4 linked regions of the Homo sapiens genome follow. The protein of the gene in region 3 interacts with the protein of the main gene of each other region in a pairwise test. Each region holds a gene or a part of one and is shown on either strand. Other genes may lie near its edges.

Region 1 (3,793 bases), on a different chromosome or scaffold from region 3:
AGCCAACCAGTGATTGTCTGGAATATCTTAGGAAATGAACTGTAATTGTCAGCCTCCTAAAATCAATTTTTTTTTTTTTTTTTTTGAGGCTGAGTCTTGCTCTTGTTGCCCGGGATGGAGTGCAATGGTGCGATCTTGGCTCACCGCAACCTCCACCTACAGGGTTCAAGCGATTCTCCTGCCTCAGCCTCCCGAGTAGCTGGGATTACAGGCATGTATCACCACGCCCAGCTAATTTTGTATTTTTAGTAGATACGGGGTTTCTCCATTTTGGTCAGGCTGGTCTCGAACTCCCGACCTCAGGTGATCCGCCTGCCTTGGCCTCCCAAAGTGCTGGGATTTACAGGCGTGAGCCACCGCGCCTGGCCAAAATAAAATGTTTTTATCTTTCTTCACTTAGAACTATGAAGGCCTTTTCTTGTTCTGGTAACCCCCCACAGTGTAATTGGTGCTGAAAATAGTTTCGTGCCTGAGGTCTGTTGTCACTCACTCACTTTCTGACAATTAGGTGAGCCACTTGAGGATTTTCTGGCCTGAAGTTATAAAAACTTGGCATCTGTCCTAAGGTAATTGTAAAGGCAAAATGAAAGCATTGAGGTGAATTTAGGTTATATGGCATTTATCTGGTAATGTGTTTCAGAAAAGCTAGAATGAAAATGTGATGTAAGGGATAGCAAGTGTAGGTTGATTCATAATTCTTGGTATAAAACCAAGTTTTCCTTAGTCTTGAGGAATTTGAAGAAAGGTAAAATGTTGGATTTTAAGCAAAGTAGGATTGACCAGAGACTGTTCTGACTTTGACATTCAGACCTTTCAGATGTTCTTCCTTCAGACCAGTCCAAGACACTCAGCATTTCCAGCCAAGTTGTCTTTTTTTTCTGCCAATAAAGTATTCATTAGTTGACGTTTGTTTGTATTTTAAGTAAAGTCAATTTTTTTTAAAGCATTAATTTAATTCACGGGTATGCCTTTCATTTCTCTGGCCTTCAGTTGGTTTAAAAAAAAAAAAAAAAAAAAAAGCACTTAGCCGGACCATTCTTTCTTTAGTAAACATTTTTATTTTCTTAATTTTTCCTGAAAGATTTTCTTCATTTTCATGGAATGTCATAATGACACTACCATTATTTTCTAGCTCTTTGCATAATAGAAAAATGTAGAGCAGTGCACCATTTAAACACGTCTGACATTGGATTTAGTGGTCCTAGGTTCATGTGATTTGGGAGCCTTAAGTTGTTATTTAGATTGATTCAGCCTGATTCACCATCTTTTTTACTACAGTTCTACATGAATGTGGTGAAACAGGTAGAAGAAAATTAAGCATTTCTCTGCTTTTGGAGTCTAATGTTCCTGCCTAGTGACTGGTTTGTAACACCCCCCTCACCCCTACTTTGTTAGGAACCTGCAATTCCTAAAAGAAATAAATAAAGCTGTACCCAATGTCCATTCTTTAATGCTTGCCTGGTTGAATAATGTTTGTTTTTTCTGTTTATGTCAGTAGTACATGCTTATTGTGGAAAATTTAGACAATACAGAAAAGTATAACAATTAATTGCCTATGATTCTGTCACCAGAAAAAATCACTTGATATTTTTGCATCTTCCTTGCCATTGTCTTTGCTACTTCTGCATATTTTTACTTAGTTTCATCATTCTCAGTGTAATTTATATCTTGGGGTTTTTCCCCGCAACCTACAGGCATTATTCCATGTCATTAAAACTGTGTCAACTATTATTAATTTTATGGTACTCCATTGTTATGGATGTGCCATGTTTCATATAACCTTTACTTATTTTGAACAGTTTAGATTATATCTCATAATGCCACAATGAATGTCTTTGTGTATAAATTATTTTCTTAGGATAAAATACTGGAGGTGGAATTTCTAGTCAAGGGTATATGAACACTTTTGTAGTTCTTGATTCATACCACTTTTCCACATGGGTATGTTAATTTATACTGCAGCTAGATGGTATGGGAAGGGTGGTCTAGCCATATTTTCCAAGAACATGCAACGTTTTATCTTTATGCAGGCATCTGCACTAAGACCCTCTGCCTTTCTGACTCTATGGAACGGGGTTAACTGATATGGAGATCATTGGCAGAGATTTTCCCAAGCTTTCTTAGTTTTAAATATATCTGACATGGGCCGGGTATGGAGGCTCACGCCTGTAATCCCAGCACTTTGGGAGGCCAAGGCGGGCAGATAATCTGAAGTCAGGAGTTGGAGACCAGCCTGGCTAACATGGAACATGGTGAAACCCCATCTCTAGCAAAAACATAAATTAGGTGGGTGTGATGGCAGGCGCCTGTAGTCCCAGCTACTTGGGAGACCGAGGCAGGAGAATCGCTTGAACCCAGGAGGCGGAGGATTTGCAGTGATCCGAGATTGTGCCACTGCACTCCAGCCTGGGTAACAAAGCAAGACTCTCTAAAAAAAAAAAAAAAAAAAAAAAAAAATATATATATATATATATATATATATATAAAATCTGACATGTTTCAGAAACACCTACGTATGGCTATCCAAGCTTTTCCCATGATTTTACTGGCACTGTAAAGTTGCACAAATATTCTTTGTCAGACTACGTTTTCCATCTTTAGTTCAAAAGTTTTGTCACTTTTTAAAAAAAGCCTCTTGTACCTAAGGCCTGCCCTTAAGAGGTCAGCTCTCTTTTTCCTCTTCCTGTAGGCCCCATTATGGCCTTTCTGAGCTCCCCAAAGCCAGTAGAATCTACTGAGCCAAAGGCATTCCATCCCCAAACTGAAAAGTGGTAAGGCTAAAAGCTATAAAAACAGGCAAACATTGCCTGTTTTCACTTTATATTCCCTTATGTTTCCAATAAGGGTAGCTGCAGGGAAAGAAAAAAACAGATTGCTACCTTCAGATGTTTGAGGTACAACATTTTCTTGATTGGCGTAGCACAATCATTTCCCAAACTGCTTCCTATTTCTGAATGGCTTTTTTAAAAAGCTTTATTTTGTGTTCTCAAAGCTTAATTATTTTAAGTGACGAAGAGTGTTACCGTGTTGTAGAATAGCATATGCCTCTTATTTTGGCCTTCATCAAACTGTTTAATAAATGTTTAGAGTGTTTTGTAAGTACACGTGGAATAGAGTGTTACAGAAGTTTTGGTTCCAGACATCAGGCAGCTTATAATCAAGGTTCCAAAAATCAAGAATTCTTAAGCTGGGCATGGTGGCTCATGCCTGTAATCCCAGCACTTTGGGAAGCCAAGGCAGGCAAATCACTTGAGGCCAGGAGTTTGAGACCAGCCTGGCCAACTTGGTAAAACCCCATCTCTACTAAAAATACAAAAAATTAGGGCATGATGGCTCATGTCTGTAATCCCAGCTACTTGGGAGGCTGAGGGATGAGAATTGCTTGAACCTGAGAGGCGGAGGTTGCAGTGACTCAGGATCATGACCCTGTACTCCAGCCTGGGTGACAGAGTGAGACCAAAAAAAAAAAAAAAAAAAAAAAAAAAAAGTAACAGGCATTGTGCAAAGAATTTTCCAAGAATGTCTCATTCTTGCAATGGCTTCTCAGAGGAAAGTGGTGTTATTCCCCATTTTACAAATGAAACAGGTTTAGGTAAGTTTCCCAAGGTCACAGTGAATGAGTAGTGGACTTGGGAGTCTGACCTAGACTTACCCCAAAAGCTCTCTGCGTAAACTGAAGTGACGTTAATTAGCTGTGCTATCTAGGAGACTGATATGGGAATCTAGACTTAAAATTATGAGAACTGGTTTCAGATGATGGCCAGAGTAATAAGGAAGGAGTGGATGCTGAAGC
Region 2 (3,898 bases), on a different chromosome or scaffold from region 3:
ATGACTTGTTTTTTTGTGGATAGTTTTTATTTTGTTTTTTTTGAGATGGAGTTTTGCTCTAGGTGCCTAGGCTGGAGTGCAATGGTGTGATCTCTGCTCACTGCATCCTCCACCCTCTGGACATGATTCTCCTGCCTCAGCCCTCCGAGTAGATGAGATTACAGGCACCTGCCACCATGCCCGGCTAATTTTTATATTTTAGTAGAGACAGGGTTTACCGTGTTGGTCAGCCTTGTCTCGAACTCCTGACCTCAGGTTATCCACCCACCTTGGCCTCCCAAAGTGCTGGGATTACAGGTGTGAGCCACTGCGTCCGGCCTGGATAGGAATTTTGTAAGATACTTAATGTATTCTGCTAGATGGACTGAATGTGTGTAATTTTTTTGTTCAGTTAAACAATTTTAGTACATTTGATTTAGGTTCTTTAGCACGGGATCTAAATGTCATATCCTCGATGGAATTTAAAAATTACGTTAATCACTTTCTGAGAACAATTTTTAATATTAACAATGTTGACAGAAACAGGAAGACCTGTGTTTTACATTATTTAAAACTCCTTTGTAAGAGCATTTCTTTAAAATAATACTTATGTTTAGTAAACCTCATGAATATGGAATTAATTTCTAAGAAGCTAAATTGCCCAAAAAAGTAGTTTTATTTTTAAGTAGTAAATTTAAGTTACATATCACTTTCTTTAAATTGCATTTAATATGCCAATTTAAATAAAATAGCATTTTTCATTCTTAAGTTTATTGGGATTGGGTATTAATAAAAAGTCATTTACAGCATTGAAATCTTTTGGGATGAATGGATATAGGCATTTTTTTTTCTTCTCAGGTATATTCAAGAGCAAATGACCAAGAGCCATGTGGGTGGTGGTTGGCTAAAGTTCGGATGATGAAAGGAGAAGTAAGTACTCTTCACACTTGCTTTGTGACTAGTTTCTAAGGAAGTACCTCAGTGCTTGGTTTTTGTAAATCTTATTTCAACTGTTAGTTTTATTTCTAAAAGCCTACCTGAGAAATAGTTGATCAGACATTTCCATTAGCATTAATTTCTGTTTGTGTTCTGTATTGGCAAACACCAAAGCTGCTCTCCAGAGGTACACCTCAAGCATGTAAGGACCGCCAAGGTTCATGCTTGTAAGAACCTATAATCTAGTTTAGGCAAATCAGATTGATGTAGCTAAGCTGTGCTTAGTATTTTATGCCACATGGGGGAGGGTCCGTTGGTTAAGCTGAGCAAGGTAATTAGAACTTCATTTAAACTTCATTATTTTTGTTCAGATGGGATTTTTAAAGTATTTTGATGTCTTTTAGTTTTATGTCATTGAATATGCTGCTTGTGACGCTACTTACAATGAAATAGTCACATTTGAACGACTTCGGCCTGTCAATCAAAATAAAACTGTCAAAAAAAATACCTTCTTTAAATGCACAGTGGATGTTCCTGAGGATTTGAGAGAGGCGTGAGTAATTTTATATACTATTGAATTGTTCTGTGAATTAAGAAGATTTTTCAGTCCTACAAAACATTTTCCCTAATGCCCAATCAAACCTTCTGATGGAAAATCATCTTAATGAACAAAGGTTTTAGTGGGGCTTGTCAAAATGAAACACTGACTTTGTATTGTGACTCTCCTCTGACTTTAATCTGTTATTGAGTTCTTACACATAAATTGATTTCTCTCTAGGTGTGCTAATGAAAATGCACATAAAGATTTTAAGAAAGCAGTAGGAGCATGCAGAATTTTTTACCATCCAGAAACAACACAGCTAATGATACTGGTAAGATAGTACCATATTATAAGGTAGCTTATTAATGGATATTGCACAGATTTTATAATTACATATTTCAGAAGAGAAAAGCTAAGATCAACTTAGTGTATAGTGAATTTATTAATATAGTGTGGGAGAAAAATTTGTTTGCAGCTATAAAATGTTAATTACATTCTTAACATCATAAAATTCTTAATGTGTGAGATTCCGGATTTTTCCCCAATCAAACATATTCTGAATAGCAGATCTAAATAATACAGGAATTCAGAAAGGAAAGTGTGATTACTCAGAGTAGTGAGTGTTAGGTGAAAGAAGTGTAGTAGATGAGAAGCAAGGAAGGCTTTGCATAGAAGATGGGATGGTGTTTGTGCTATTTGGAAGAATGATTAAAGTTTTGAGTAATTAGCTTGTTTGTTTATAGTCTGCCAGTGAAGCAACTGTGAAGAGAGTAAACATCTTAAGTGACATGCATTTGCGAAGTATTCGTACGAAGTTGATGCTTATGTCCAGAAATGAAGAGGCCACTAAGCATTTAGAAGTAAGTGGGTTTACTTACAAAAGAGTTTTCTGTGTCCCATTTAGTTTTTGTTTGTTTTTTGGAGACAGATTCTGGCTCTGTTGCCCAGGCTAGAGTGCAGTGGCACAATCTTGGCTTACTGCAACCTCCACCTCCCGGATTCAAGCGGTTCTCCTGCCTCAGCCTCCGTGTAGCTGGGATTGCAGGTGTGCCCCACCAAGCCCAGCTAATTTTTGTATTTTAGTAGAGGTGGGGTTTTGCCATGTTGGCCAGGCTGGTCTCGAGCTCCTGGGCTCAAGTGATTGCCCGCCTCAGCCTCTCAAAGTGCTGGGATTACAGGCATGAGCCACCGAACCTGGCCCCCATTTAGTTTTATATTTTTCAAGTTCCTTGCTTCAAACGAAGGCAGCCCAGGACCTCTGTTTCGTGACTGTTTGGAGTTGTGTCCGTAGAACAATTGCTTTTCCATTTTACCTTTTATCAAACATAGCCTTTCCTTTGCGAAATGCCTGTTGACTTGTTGGTAGGACTTAGATGACAGGTGCCAAAGAGCTAAGAAACTAGGGATACTCAGTAGACTGTATTGCTAGTTCTTTACTTTGTATTTAACCTTTTTATTTTTTTAACTGCCTTGTCATCTGTCAGTCATGATATCTTTCATCAGTAACTAGTTCACTGTAACAACTCTTGTGTGAGAGGAGAGGAGGACTAGGAGTGAGGCATCATGTGGCATGTAGTATTAAAATATTAAGCTTATCATTATATCTCTGTCTTATCCTAAGGTACTCTGTTTTGTCCTGTTCTTCCCTGCTACACTAGTAGGATACTTGTTCTTCCCACTCACTCACACTTTCTAGATCTAGATGAACACATGTGCATGCACACACTGTGATGTCTCAGAGAAATTAAGATATGTTTATTATCCTTAGGACAAATTTGGAAATGTTCTCATTAATTTAAAAATTCTGAACAAGGGATATGTGAACAAATCTGCCTGTATCTGGAAAAGTGTTTTAGACTAATAAAATAGATGAATAAAACAGTTTCTTTTCCCCATTCATTTTATGACATTAGATGAGTTTCCTTTGTTTCTTAAGAAACTTGAGTTTTGGCCTTTTTAAAAAAATTTATGTGGGTTTTCGGTGGTTTTTTCTTCTTGGGTTTTTCTTTATACTGTGGTAAAGTACATATGAAACTTAGCATCTTAACCATTTTTAAGTGTACACTTAGTATTAAGTATGTTTACATTATTGATCAATCTTCAGTACATCTCATCTTGTAAAACTGCAAATCTATACCCTTTAGACAGCTGCTCATTTTCCCCTTTCCACAGCCCCTGACAACCATCATTCTATTTTCTGTTGCTATAAATTTGACTATTTTAGATACCTCATGTAAGTAAAATCATTTTAGTCTTTTTTGTGACTGGCATATTTTACTTAGCATCAAGGTTCATCTATGTAGCATGTGTCAGAATTTCCTTTTTAAGGCAGAATGTATATACCACATTATGTTCATTCATTAATTGGTCTGTGGATTTGGGTTGCTTTCACCTCTTTACTGTCGTAAATAATGCTATGAACATGGATTTGCAATAAAACAT
Region 3 (3,898 bases):
AAATTACATTACCTTGTTATTTTGTGGAAGGCACGTACATCTAACTTAACTGAAAACAAAAGCATTAAATCCCCTGTTGAATTTAAGAAAGATTAGTGCTACCAGAAACTCTAAGAAATGAAAGGGCAACTGGGAATATTGGAATTAAAAGTAAGGAAAGTTATTAAATTATAAAATTAGAATTGGCAAGAATGATAAAGAAAAAGCTTTTATTTCATAGGTAAGGTTTCGTAGGTTGAATGATCCAAAGCAATGAGGCTATTTACACTGTGTGGCAAGAGTTCAAATCTTTTCCTAGCTGAAATTTCATATACTACAGACCAACCAGCAACTGACTGAATCCCTGCAGAAAACCCCTTTATCCTAATTTCCTTCCCTTTGCTTCAAATACCCACCACACAATGTTCTGATCTTCATTTGGTCTTTTGAATCTATTTCTCTATTGAAAATAGAGCCTTCATTCAGTTTTTGAACAGGAGGGCGCTCTGGGGTTTTAGTTCAAATATCTCACTTGGGGAATGGCAGGAGGAGAAGGTTTGGTTGCTGTCTTCAACTACTTTTCAGGGCTTTCAAGTGGAAGAGGAATTTGAAATTCTGTATTATCTCCCAGAGGCAGAACAAAGACCATTTGTATAGAATTACAGGGAGTAAATTTCAGTTCTTCATGTTAGAACTGCTTAACATTAAAATGGGTTTCCTTCATAGTTAAATTCCTTAAAGTGAAGATGGCCTTGGAGAGGTAAGCTGCACAGAGAGTGCATGTGCCAGATAAAGATTACAGCAAACTTGTTAAGATTCCTTTTAATTCAATGATACTAATAATCCCAAACCAAATAAGGTGTTATAGTGAAGTTTAAGGGTTCTTGGTTTGATTTAAATTCACTTAGCTTTTGAGACATCTGCAAACAAGTTGTTCATATTAATGCCAACTTCACATGAAAGACATCGACATGCTTACCAGAGAAGGTGAGAGAAGAGACTTTGAGGGAGCTGCTTACCTGCTTCCTGTAATAACTGAAAAATACAACTGGTGATTTTATTTGAGATTGCAGCTTTTCCTTCCAGGTGGTTTTTTCTAGCTGCATTTCCTGCTGTAATCTGGTCCTTGGACTGCAGGAGGACTTTTCCTGGACTGTCTAACAATTCGTAGACTTCTTTTGTTTTACCCTCATATAATTTTTTACCAATGTTCAGTACTGTGGAAATAAAATGGAAATAGACCAAAATTCAGAAACTTCCTGAATGCTGAAGACTAAATCACCTAGAACAATTAATCTGTAAATATACAGTGATTAAGTAATATTAATAAAAATTAAATCATCTGTATAAAACCATATACTCTACAATGTATTTCTCATACCATCACATTTGATTCACATGATCTTGTGAAGAATTTTAATTACATAAATAATTGTAGAAATTAGTAAAGCAGAAATCAAAAGGGTTGAGGGTCATGCAGTTAGGAAATATAAGAGGTAGATAAAATCCTAACTCCTCTGACATCAAATCCTGTGCTCTTTCCACTATTAACCTGCCTCTCATAGCAGAACTGAACTAGAATTAAAATTAATTAAGACCCACTTAAAGTAATGTAACTATACTAGTATTTTCACAGACACACTCACAGTATAGTATCTAAACTATCTTGCAGGAAAAAATATGCGATTTTTGCTGATATTTGCTTTTTTGTAGGCAAAATGGGAACATTCAGCCAGATGAGTTTCTTGATTTCAAGTTAATATTCAAGAGGAGGCATGCCATCCCATTGAAGTTAGCACATTTGGAAGCATCCCTCTCTATTTCTTAATCCTGTCCCTGCCCCCATTAATCCTTTCTCTTCACTAACAGTTGTAAGAAATTGTGAGGAAGTGAGCACAAAGGAATCCAATTTTGATGCTGGTCACAAAACCTAAGAAGTACACAAAAGGATGATTTAGAGAAAGAGTAAAGATAACAGATGTTTAGGAACTTAAAATTTCGAAAGAGAGAAATCAACCCTCATACTTCCACAACACTCTCAGTATCAACATTTTCCCGGTGTATCCATGTGCCAAGGGATGTACCAGTAAATAATAATTCCTGCTCTCAAGAGACCTGAGTCTGAGGGGAGCTGATATTAAATAAGACATCATAATAATAGAATGCAATAAATACAGACTATGGGACTAGTCTAGACATTAGAAAAAGAAGTCTACAAGAAAGTGACAGGTTGAAATCTGAAGAATCATCGAAATTTAGCCAAAGGAGAGAAAGGGGTAGGTAGTGTTGATGAATAAATACAAGGTGGTCAAAGTGGATTGCAGAACTTCAGTCTGGTTGGAGCTGGAGCTCTGGGTATATGTACATTGCTGTTGGGCAGGGGAAGGGGTGGGGGCTGCAGCTAAAGAATGGCAGGAGACAAGACTTAAGAGTTGGACAGGGGCCACATCACCAGCTAGTGGAGGTAACCATTAAACAAAGTAGTTGTAATTTAGTTAACAGTTGCCACTGTAGGGCACCTAATTTAGAGGATGAATCTCTACCCTCCCTAATGTAATGTCTAGACTCATTAACATGGTTTAAAAGTCCCTTTAAGATACAGCCCTGGCTTACTGCTCCAAACTCTTATTTGTCTATTTCCTATCTAGAACTCCAACATCTTTAATTCTTATACAATCTTCCCCTAGCTTCTGACAATCTCTTCTTTCCTAGGCCTGGAAAACTTCCCTTCCATTTTGCTACACATCCTTCTTGTTTCACAAGCCATGCTGATTGAGTTTAGACTTTAACCCAAGAAGAGCTATAAGGCTTTTAAGTGCTAAAGCAAAACGCTATTTGGAAAGATCATTACGGCTTCTGTATGGACAATGAAGGGAGGAAGGGGTGAGTGAACAAAAACTAGAGCTTGGAAGACCAGTTAGGATGCTGTTGCAGTAACTTGAACAAGAAACGTCTGGCCAGGTGCAGTGGCTCACATCTGTAATCTCAGCACTTTAGGAAGACAAGGAGGGCAGATTGCTTTAGCTCAGGAGTTCAAGACCAGCCTGGGCAACAGGGCAAAATCCCATCTCTACCAAAAAAACAAAAATTAGCCCAGCATGGTGGTGCATGCCTGTAGTCTCAGCTACTTGGGGAGGTCGAGGCCGCAGTGGGCCAAGATTTGCACTATTTCACTCAAGCCTGGGTGATAGAGTGAGACCCTGTCTCAATAAAAAAAAAGGAAAAGAAAAAGAAATGTCTTGGTCTAAGGAAAGAGTAGTGGGCAAAGATGCAAGATATTTAAGATAGTAGCTTTGAGAATTCATCATGGAGGATAAAAGAGAGGGAAGGGTAAAGAACAGTGGGCCGGGAACAGTGGCTCATGCCTGTAATCCCAGCACTTTGGGAGGCCGAGGCGGGCGGATCACTTGAGGTTAGGAGTTCAAGACCAGGCTGACCAACATGGTAAAATCCTGTCTCTACTAAAATTACAAAAATTAGCCGGATGTGTTGGTGCACGCCTGTAATCCTTGCTACTTGGGAGGCTGAGGCAGGAAAATCGCTTGAACCTGAAAGGCGGAGGTTGCAGTGAGCTGAGATGGCGCCACTGCACTCCAGCCTGGGCAAGAGAGGGAGACTCCGTCTCAAGAAAAAACAAAAACAAAAAAAACAGTGCCCAGATCAGATAAAGAAATTAACATTTATATATATTAATATGCAGTAAGCCCGGGCAAAGTTTGTATCTAATGCCCCTCCCCTTAATTTAGTTGAATCTGTATTACTTAGTCATTAAAGAGGGAAGGAATTTGAATTAATGGGTAGAAACAACATAAGAAACAACCATACGTGACATACCCTGCAAGTACCAAAATGGTTGCTACAAATTTGTAGATGAATTCTGGAAAGATTGATGAGGACTGAAAATGATTCATGGAATTGA
Region 4 (3,898 bases), on a different chromosome or scaffold from region 3:
ATTGTATTTCATCACAAACTTAGTAAACCGATGACACAAAAATGTTTCATTCTGTAGAGAGGAAGACAAAAATGTTATTTTAATTCACTATCCCAAACTAAAAGACTAGAAATAACATCAATATATATTACTGTTACACTGATAAGAATGCATCAAGATAATCAGTGAAATATACTTACTTCATATTCATCAAATATCTGCCGATGATGAAAATAAGCATGTGAAAATATTCTGTAAATCCTACGGCATACTGATCCTAGTTTCGCTACAGATGATTCCTTTATGCTAACCCTAGAAGTAGAAAAGAAACCATAGATTCTTAGAACTGGATAGAATCTTAGGAACAATATAGTCCAATTTCTCGCTTACAAGTGTAGAAACTGACACCTAGGGAAAATAAGCGACTACTCCAAGGTCACACTGCGAGTAAATGCCTGGAGCCCCTGCTCCTCAGTTCTAGGCCAGTGTTCTTTCTACCTAATCACAGGGCCTAACTTAAATTCAGCATTATAGTTTTGAAACTTTGTAAAAGTTTAATGCAGTTAGAATAAATCCCTGACATTTCAAAATTTACTATAACATCTATTTCCAACATTAATACATTGTCCACTAGAGGCGATTGAAAACTCCTGAAAGGAATTATTGTTTTATTTTACAGAACTAGGTTATTCTTTCCTTTTCTTTTCTTTTTTTTTTTTTTTTTTTTAGAAATTAAGGCCAGGTGTGGTGGCTCACGCCTGTAATCCCAGCACTTTGGGAGGCCAAGGCAGGTGGATCATCTGAGGTCAGGAGTTCGAAACCAGCCTGGCCAACATGGTGAAACCCCGTCTCTACTAGAAAATACAAAAATCAGCCAGGCGTGGTGGCAGGCACTTGTAATCCCAGCTACTCATGAGGCTGAGGCAGGAGAAACGCTTGAACCCAGGAGGCAGAGGTTGCAGTGAGCTGAGATTGCGCCACTGCACTCCAGCCTGGTTGAGCAAGACTCCATATAGAAAAAGAAAAACAGAGAGAGAGAAATTAAAATTGTTTTTTTAAAATTGAAATTTTCTGCATATTTCTGATATCCTTTTTTAAAATATGTATACACAGAATATTAAGGTCAAAAGTCAGTATTTTTCTTAACATATTTTATATGAGCTCTTTGAAGCTAATCATATTTGGTGGGGGAAATCTCCAAATCTATCCACCTGGTAACAAATACCTTAATAAAATAAAAGGCAGTCACAAACTTCACCGATAATATATTACATGTACAGACTTCTCAGATCTTAAAAATCAATGAGCAAGGATAAGGAATCCTTCAAAAACAAATAAGAAAGTCTGCTCTTTTTTTTTTGAGACAGTTTCGCTCTTGTTGCCCAGGCCGGAGTGCAATGGCGCGATCTCGGCTCACCACAACCTCTGCCTCCTGGGTTCAAGCGATTCTCCTGCCTCAGCCTCCCAAGTGGCTGGGATTACAGGTACTCGTCACCATGCCCAGATCATTTTGTATTTTTAGTAGAGAAGGAGTTTCTACATGTTGTTCAGGCTGGTCTCGAACTCCCAATCTCAGGTGATCCGCACGCCTCGGCCTCCCAAAGTGCTGGGATTACATCCGTGAGCCACTGCGCCCAGCCAGAAAGTCTGCTCTTTAGGCATACTACATAAAGGGAGGTCGAGTCTAACTAACATAGAGATTCAAGTGAGCAAGTATATACATATCCCAACTCTAAAGCATGAGAGGGAGAGCTCTGCAGAATGACATATATGAACAGGTACTAGCCTTAGACTGAACTGGCCTTGAGCTTTGACAGCCAAGTTCTGCTGTTTAACCACAGTCCTAATTTCAAAACTTGAATAAACAAGCCAAAATACAACAGCTAAAAAAAAAAATACAAAAATGCATTAACGAGCAACCTAATTTTACTTTTAAAATACTAATCTTTTATTTTATTATTATTTATACTTTAAGTTTTAGGGTACATGTGCACAACGTGCAGGTTTGTAACATATGTATACATGTGCCATGTTGGTGTGCTGCACCCATTAACTCATCATTTAGCATTAGGTATAGCTCCTAATACTATCCCTCCCCCCTCCCCCCTAAAATACCAATCTTATAAATTAACTCTAAAATGTTTAACACTATGTTTAAAAGTTTCGATTACCTGCTGGGAAAATATTTATTGCTATTCAGAAGACATGCAGCACCATCAAGTGTGTGTCTAGTATAGTCTATAGCAGGACACTACAAAAGAAAGAATATAGAAATGCATCAACAAAGAGCTCTCTCTTAAGTTAGATATATTCATTATATGGGTATACCTTATTCCAAAGACATGAGCATGTTCTAAGAAAAAAGTTCCTTACAATTTCCGAATGCTTGTAAAATATAATGTTATATTAATAAGTAAGGTTTATTATCCCCTTGAACCATATCACAATTCTAGATGATACATAAACCAGTCTCCCATTTTTATTCCCAACATCGTACCTACAAGAAAACAACAATTACAGACAAGAAGAATCCTGATTTATCTCTGGTATCTCCAGGGATGCCTTCTTATATCCTAAACAATATTCCTTATTATGTCCCTAGCACTCTATTATCAATCTAGCAGCCCTCTAAAGAACTTTCTCCCAGATCACCTTTGAATTTTAACATGAAATATCAAAGTTTCCTTATATTTTAATAAATCTGACTTATTCTGTTCCATTTATCAGAAACAATGAAAAAAAGAAACAATGAAACACTGTCTCATGGCAACTCAGTAAATTTATTAAAGGAAAAATAAAACTGCAAAGTAATTGTCCTCATCCAGTCCTCCTGAGGGCAGACAGGGAGCAACATCAAGGGGAAAGCAGTCTAGAAACAAACCAGGGAGTCAACCAGAAGGAAAAAACAACTAGAGGAAGGAGTAACAATGACTGTAGCTCAAAGACTCTACCCAGTAATTAGGTTATTTTTCAAGTTTGAGACTGAAGCTGTCACTTAGAAATACGGTTTAGTAACTACTAAATATGGCTTAGTGCCGTGGCACTAAAAAATTACCTAATAAAAAAGAAGTATTTTTCTAACAATATATCCACAGGAATTTCTGATTAGTGGACTCCTTGCCAAAAACAGTACCATGAGCAATATTTATTGAAAAAAACTACCTTTCTCCAGATATATGACCACAGATGAGTTGGTCAAAAGCAAATATCCCAAGTAACTGTATTTCTCATATTTGTCATTTGGGTATACCATGAGACAGTTTTACAACCTTTAAACCAGAATCATCAACAGAAATACAGCAGACCCTTGAACAACACAGGTTTGAACTGCGTAAATCCACTTATGCTCAGATTTTCCCAGCAACGGCAAGACCAACCCCACTTCTTTCTCTTTCTCCTCAGCCTACTCAACGACATGAACACAACAAGGAAGACCTTTACAATGATCCACTTAATGAATGGCAAATATATTTTCTCTTCCTTACGATTTTCTTTAAAAAAAAGAAAGAAAGAAGGTCTCACTATGTTGACCAGGCTGGTCTCGAACTCCTGGCCTCAAGCGATCCTCCCATCTCAGCCTCCCAAAGTGCTGGGTTTACAGGCATAAGCCATCACGCCCAGCCCCTTATGATTTTCTGAATAACATTTTCTCTAGCTTCCTTCATTGCAATACACTATATAATACACAGAACATACAAAATGTGTGTTAATCGACTGTTATCGGTAAGGCTTCCAGTCAACAGTAGGCTATTAGTAATTAAGTTTTGGGGGAGTCAAAAGTTAGATACTCAGATTTTCAGCTGCACAGAGGGTTGGGATCCCAATCCCGGAGTTGTTCAAGGGTCAACTGTATAATGCAAGCCATATATTTAATTTTAAATTTTCTAGGCCCAATGTGGTGGCTCACGCCTGTAATTCC

Evidence for each region.
Region 1: the proteins of PAICS (region 3) and PIAS2 interact in binary tests that used the Homo sapiens proteins (3 or more experiments, as listed by UniProt).
Region 2: the proteins of PAICS (region 3) and FXR1 interact in a two-hybrid assay, tested with the Homo sapiens proteins (one large-scale study listed by BioGRID and IntAct).
Region 4: the proteins of PAICS (region 3) and MOB4 interact in a two-hybrid assay, tested with the Homo sapiens proteins (one large-scale study listed by BioGRID and IntAct).

Annotation. Positions count from the first base shown.
Region 1 is NC_000018.10:46,806,048-46,809,840, reverse strand, and holds part of PIAS2 (E3 SUMO-protein ligase PIAS2), read left to right. Parts: 3' UTR 1-3,793. UniProt on the Homo sapiens protein: Functions as an E3-type small ubiquitin-like modifier (SUMO) ligase, stabilizing the interaction between UBE2I and the substrate, and as a SUMO-tethering factor.
Region 2 is NC_000003.12:180,947,028-180,950,925, forward strand, and holds part of FXR1 (RNA-binding protein FXR1), read left to right. Parts: intron 1-837; coding exon 838-909; intron 910-1,319; coding exon 1,320-1,468; intron 1,469-1,693; coding exon 1,694-1,787; intron 1,788-2,199; coding exon 2,200-2,316; intron 2,317-3,898. UniProt on the Homo sapiens protein: mRNA-binding protein that acts as a regulator of mRNAs translation and/or stability, and which is required for various processes, such as neurogenesis, muscle development and spermatogenesis.
Region 3 is NC_000004.12:56,438,961-56,442,858, reverse strand, and holds part of PAICS (bifunctional phosphoribosylaminoimidazole carboxylase/phosphoribosylaminoimidazole succinocarboxamide synthetase), read right to left. Parts: intron 1,197-3,898; coding exon 999-1,196; intron 1-998. UniProt on the Homo sapiens protein: Bifunctional phosphoribosylaminoimidazole carboxylase and phosphoribosylaminoimidazole succinocarboxamide synthetase catalyzing two reactions of the de novo purine biosynthetic pathway.
Region 4 is NC_000002.12:197,546,668-197,550,565, reverse strand, and holds part of MOB4 (MOB-like protein phocein), read right to left. Parts: intron 2,231-3,898; coding exon 2,151-2,230; intron 292-2,150; coding exon 180-291; intron 52-179; coding exon 1-51. Other genes in the region: HSPE1-MOB4 protein, read right to left, coding at 1-51, 180-291, 2,151-2,230.